2 separate regions of the Homo sapiens genome follow, and region 1 is linked to region 2. Evidence: fine-mapped expression QTL. A gene starts in region 2. The other region holds a variant in brackets. All regions are shown on one strand. Distances are between the middles of the regions.

Region 1 (2,913 bases), 28 kb before region 2:
CTCTGGAACTGGGACCAAATGGGACAATAAAATAAGGAGCAGGCAAACACCATGTGGAAAGCAGTATGATCCCCAGATCCTTCCACTCCCTGTTGCTGGGTGGCTGCCCTCCCCCAGAAGCCAGGAGGTCTGATCTCTAGAGAACTAACAGGGGATCCAGCTGGAGGGCTGAGGTGTGAGTACCTGACAAGCTGAATGCTAAGGTCCCTCTTCCCCAACTTGGCAACCAGCATCCTGAGCCCAGAAGATTATTCCCCAGGGACTCTGACTAGATTCAAAGAAAAAACCTAAAGGAAGTGCAGTGGTCCTCAACAGAGGTCTCACCTAGACAATGTGGCTGTGTATGGAATTCCAGGTTCAACCTCACTTAATGAGGGTCTTTTCAGTATGTTGGTCTCAAATTTTACTTCCCATGCAGCTTTTCTCAGGAAGTCATTAAGAACAAGGGAATAAACCTATAACAAGGTAAAGATGGGCCACAGGAAACAGGAGATCAAATACAGAGGAGGGCAAAAGAATCTCCAGAGAGGGGAGATCCCAACACCCCTGCTGAGTTTCACAACAAAGGGTGAACAAGTGTGACCCAAGGGGCAGACATAGTGTAGAAAGTAAAAAGTTTCCTCTTCAAAGTTTTCCTTCTTGTTAAAGAATAAATCATAAGTGTTAGAAATAACAGTTTCTTTTAAAGACTAACTTTCTTCAAGTCTCCTTGCCTTGTGCTAATAACTCTTTGTTAAGCCCTATCCTCTGTAACCGTTGGACATGCTCACAGGCACGTTCCAGCCCACAGTCTACGCCCCTTCCTTATTTGGAAATGTTATTGCTTCCTTAAACCTTTTGTAAGCAACTTCTTTGTTCTTCCCTGCACTTACCTATTTAGGAAAGTTTTAGGCTATTAGCAAATCGGGTATCAGTTTAAGATTGTGAGGTCCCGCTCCAGCCAGTGGATGCAGGACACAGCAGTAAGGACGACCCAAGTGCGTAAGGGATAAATATGTCTGCTTTTCCTGTGTTCAAGTGTGCTCTCACCTTTGTTCCATCTGCAACTGAGCACCCTTTCTACAGAAAGAAAAGATGGCCTTGCTGAGATACCTTTTGTCTCTGTGCTGACTTTTCTTCGCAGCACCGATTATCTATTTCTAACAATTTTGGTATTTCTAACACATATTGAGGCTATCATCCTTAAGTCCTTGCTGCCACTGACCATCTTTTAAACCTATGGCGTCGTGGCCCAGAATCTTATCTACGCTCAGCTTGTCTTCACCATGTACAGGTGAGCCTCCTGTACACCACCCATGCCCACCCCAAAGACCAGCTGATGATGCTCACTCCACAAATAACTGCTTTGACCTTCTGCAAGCTGGAAGGAAGCTGTCAGCTCAGGCAGGAAATACAGAGGATCCCACTTCCTCTGCCCAGATTTCTGCCGCATCTCTGGTATACATCACAGCCCTGGCTGATGCATACGCTATGGTGAGCCTCATGTTTCCCAGGACTCCCTAGTGACCTTGGCCAGTGACTACCTCAGAAGGGGTTCATGGAAGCCGAAGCCAGAACATCACTGTAAGTATTAGTTTCCCAGGGCTGTAGGAACAAAGCACCACAAACTGGGTGGCTTAAAACAACAGGAATTTATTGTCTCACAGTTCTAGAGGCCAAATGTCAGAAGTCACAGTGTGGGCAGGGCTATGCTCTCTGGGGTACGCACTAGGGGAGAATTTGTTCTGTGCCCTTCTCTTAGCTCCTGGTGCTGCCGGCAATCCTTGGTGGTCTTGGCTAATTATA[T/C]TTGCAAAGGGCCTATTTCCAGATAAGGCTGCATTCATAGGTACCAGGGTTGGGACTTCAACATATGCTTAAGGGGGACACAATTCAGTCCACAACAATGACCCAGAATGACTATTTAGCTTATCTTCTCCAGGAAACTTCATCTAATAGTGGCAATTTACTTACACAGCTAGATTTATGCTTGCTACTCAGTATTTTTTTAAACGAAAAGTATATCATTTAGAGACATACACATTTAAAAAGCAAAAGAATAATTAACACTGTAAGTCAAAGTGGCTTCCTCTGAGGGGAACAGAAAGTACACAGGAGACTTCTAAGGTGTTTACAACACTCTTTATCCAGGAGATGAATACATGGGCATTTATTTTACTAATATCTAAATTATACCATATTTCTATGCTGCCTTCTATCTGTATGACACATCTTACAATTTAAAAAATTAAGTATAGGCAGTAAACAGACAGGCCCACAAGAATAAGAACAAAGAACAGGTGAATATTGGCCAGGCGCAATGGCTCATGCCTGTAATCCCAGCACTTTGGGAGGCTGAGGCGATCACTCGAGCCCAGGAGTTTGAGATCAGTCTGGGCAAGATAGTAGGACCCTGTCTCTACTAAAAATAAAAATTAAAAAAAAAATTAGCTGAGTGTGGTAGTGTGTGCCTATAGTACCAGCTACTTGGGAAGCTGAGGTGGGAGAATTGCTTGAGCCTGAGAGTTCGGGGCTGCAATGAGCTGTGGTTGTGCCACTACATTCCAACCTGCGTGACAGAGAGAGACCATGTCTCAAAAAAAAAAAAAAAAAGAACAAGAACAAGTGAATAGATGACTAACAAAAGCATATGAACAAGCAGCAAATGACTTAACAGACCAAAGAAAGCCAATACCTAAGCCAGTGGTGAAGCTAAGCAGGGTGATTTACAAAACACAGCCTCAGGGAAGTGTAGTCACCTAAGGCATCAGGCTTAGAGCCTGGGGGGTATGACTATGGATTGTGAGGCTCTTTAAGAGGTTAAAGGCTCCAATTATACCCCTATAGTAATTATACTGCCCACATCTAGGAAATGATCTTTCCCTCCACGGGCAGAAGACTGGAGAGGCTCAAGAGGGAGATTCTGGACACAGGAAG
Region 2 (2,913 bases):
AAGAAAAGACTGTTTACTCTTGATTCATCCAGTCCATTATTTTCACCCTTGGTGAACTAGGTTCAACCCCAATCACTGCCAAGTTGTTTTCTGAAAATTCACCAATGACCCTGTTCTCAGCAAGGTCGTGAATCACTGATAGACTCTGGAAGAGTGGAGTTTCCTTATCTTTGTATTCCCAAGGTGCTTAGTGAGGTAGCTTCCACACAGTAATCACCCATTAAAGGTCTGTCAACTTGAATAAGAAAGAAAATATGAACTGAGAGGACAGAATAGTCACTGCTGATCAGCAGGTCACGGATATTTCCTGAAATAAAAGTACCAAAAAAAAAAATCTGGAGACTGTTATCTCTATCGTTCCCAGATTCTAGTTTCCATAGCAAACTGTTCATTTAAACGAGAAGTGCAAACATCTCACCAAATTATCTTGGTCAAAGGCATGGAGAGTGAGTACGGGGAAGGGGGGCTCCCTTACCATGGGATAAAATCAATAGCACGTAAAACACATTAGGCTTTAACCCCAACCTTGGGCCAGGAGGGAGGCTGGTAGCTTGCAGAATGCACCCCAAGAAACTCCTTCCCCACCTTCTATTTTCTAGCGGCCCAAGTGAGATGTGGAAAGGTCCGCACCCTGCGGGCCGGCTGTGACTTGAAAACAGAGCCACTGGGCACCCCAAAAGCTTGCGTGCCGTGCCTGTGCGGAGCAAGGCCCCTTCAGCGCGGAGCTCCAAAGGCGCTAAGCCGGGCAGCCGGGTCGTCCTGAATCTGCGGGCTGCACACGCCCGCCGGGAGCTGCAGCGCCCGGAGCCCAGCAGAGCGGCCGCCGGCCGCAGCCGCAAACGCGTGGGGTGCAGGGCCGCGCCACCGCGGGGGAAAGACACGAAGAGGAGCTGAGGAACCGAGCGGGCAGAGACCACGAGAGGCCCCAGGTCGACGCCGCGCGCGCGGGCCCGGAAGAGACGGTCACGTGACACCGACCTGCTGGTCCCACTGCTGCTTCACATGTACGCCGGCCACTGTGGCCGCCGTCAGCAGCACCGAGAGGCCCAGCACCACCTTCGAGCTCCTAGACATCCCCACGCTGGCGGCCGCGGCCTCTCTCTCCCGCCCGCCCGAGGCGCAGAGGCCGCCGCAGAGTGCGCACCGCCGCCTGTACTGCCCAGGCTCGACCCCTCGAGCGCAGAGCCCCAGCCGTCGCGTGCGCCGCTCGCCGCTGCCAGGCGTGAGCAATCGAGAGCCGAGCATAGAGCGGCGCCCAGGCTCTACGAACTCTTGGCTTCACTAGGGGCCTCCTGCACACCCCGCAGGCGACAGCGTTAGACCACCCCCGATTCAAATTCTAGGAGTCCCGGCCCAAACTGGCCCCGGCACCTTACCAGGGTGGAGGGTGGGGGTTCCATGCCCCTCAGTCAGTTCAGTACCAACCTCACCCCGGGCGGGGTCTGGATACCGTGCTGACCCCTCTCCCACAGACGTCCCTTCTGAGCCCCTGACTGATCCAGAAGCTTCGCCCAATACCGGCTTCGCCTAAACGCAGCCCCCTCATTGCTCCTTTGGCGGGGCAGGCGCCACCAGGAGACCGCCTCGTTAGGCAGCTTCAGAGGCGCGGGGTTCCCATCCGTGGAGTTTTTGCCTGAGGACCCATTATTAAACGCTGTAGTCGCGGTCACCTGGTTTCACCTTGACGCTGTGGGGCGACTGGTCAGGCTCGGATTATTATTATTATTATTATTATAATTTTGATACAGAGTCTCTGTCTATCGCCCAGGCTGGAGTGCAGTGGCGCGATCTCGGCTCACTGCAACCTTACCGGATTCAAGCGATTCTCCTGCCTCAGCCTCCCGAGAGGATTACAGGCGTGAGCCACCGCGCCTGGCCCCATGTAATCTTTGTGATCACTTTTACACCCAAGTTTCCGCGCCAGTAATACAAGGGAAATAAATGATATAAAGAAGTCTTGCGTTGGGAATAGTTAAGCAATTGTGCAAGACGCATTTTCACTTCTTCCTCGGGTAAAAAAGGCAAGGCCTCCCAGAAACTTTTAAGTATCTGATAGAGCAACCAGTGAAAACGTGTTCATCATTCAATCATTCTTTCCCACTAGAATTCACAGAGAACGAGCTTCTTCCGGTGGACACGGCTATAGGCAGTATTGATTAAGCCTCACCAGGGAGTTTTACAACATTCATTACTGTTCATAGTGCTTTGCTATTCCAGTCTCTTATGTGAGCGTAAATGGCATAAGGGGACTATTGCTCTTAAAGGTATCTTTAAAGATACCTTTTCCAAATGTCATTTTGTCCACAGCATTTTTTGCAGCCTAGAGAGAATGTACCACTGAATTGGAAAATGGAGTTCTTGCTGTAATGAACTTTGAGAAGAAATTCAGTTCAGGGTGTATTTGCATATTTCTCTTTAAAAATTATATTAGACTTCTTTTTATTCGTGGTATATCCTAGATATTTTCCCCTGTAAATCAGTGAGCCTTCAACAGAGCTGTATGTCCTTAGAGTGTACATCAGGGAATTAGATCAATCGCCTTTCATTTTATTGTGACTAATTTTTCAACTTGTTTTCTTGAAATGTACTCTTTTCTTTATTTTCAGGATACTAGAAGCAAAAAAAAAAGTATTCTACTTTTAAGAAATCATTTATTATTAACTGTGTCAAATAAAAAAGTGGGTTGGGGGACTGAGGGAGGTCTTGCAAAAAAAAAAAAGTATGTTTATCTGTTTAAATATTTATAAGCCTAAGCAGTATATTTTCCGTGATTATTGTCGCATAAATTACTGATTTGTGAGAGTGACTGCATATCATCAAACTGAGAAGCAACTATTTTTTTCTTTTTCTTTTCTTTTCTTCTTTTTAATTGAGACAGGGTCTCACTCCGTCGCCCAGGCTGGAGTGCTGTGG

What was found.
Region 1: its variant is fine-mapped to the expression of KAT14 in whole blood (TOPMed, PIP above 0.99).

Annotation. Positions count from the first base shown.
Region 1 is chr20:18,164,294-18,167,206 of GRCh38, reverse strand. All of the region lies in intron 7 of KAT14 (lysine acetyltransferase 14), which reads right to left. Among named protein-coding and RNA genes, the nearest start is that of PET117, 28 kb to the right of the region's middle. The variant T/C (reference allele first, on the strand shown) is at 1,786.
Region 2 is chr20:18,136,117-18,139,029 of GRCh38, reverse strand. It overlaps KAT14 (lysine acetyltransferase 14), which reads right to left and starts at 1,167. Exons shown (of 11, transcript NM_001392073.1): 1 at 979-1,167. PET117 (PET117 cytochrome c oxidase chaperone) reads right to left here and starts at 1,167. Exons shown (of 2, transcript NM_001164811.2): 1 at 979-1,167. The coding sequence starts at 1,074. RefSeq lists a silencer at 679-798.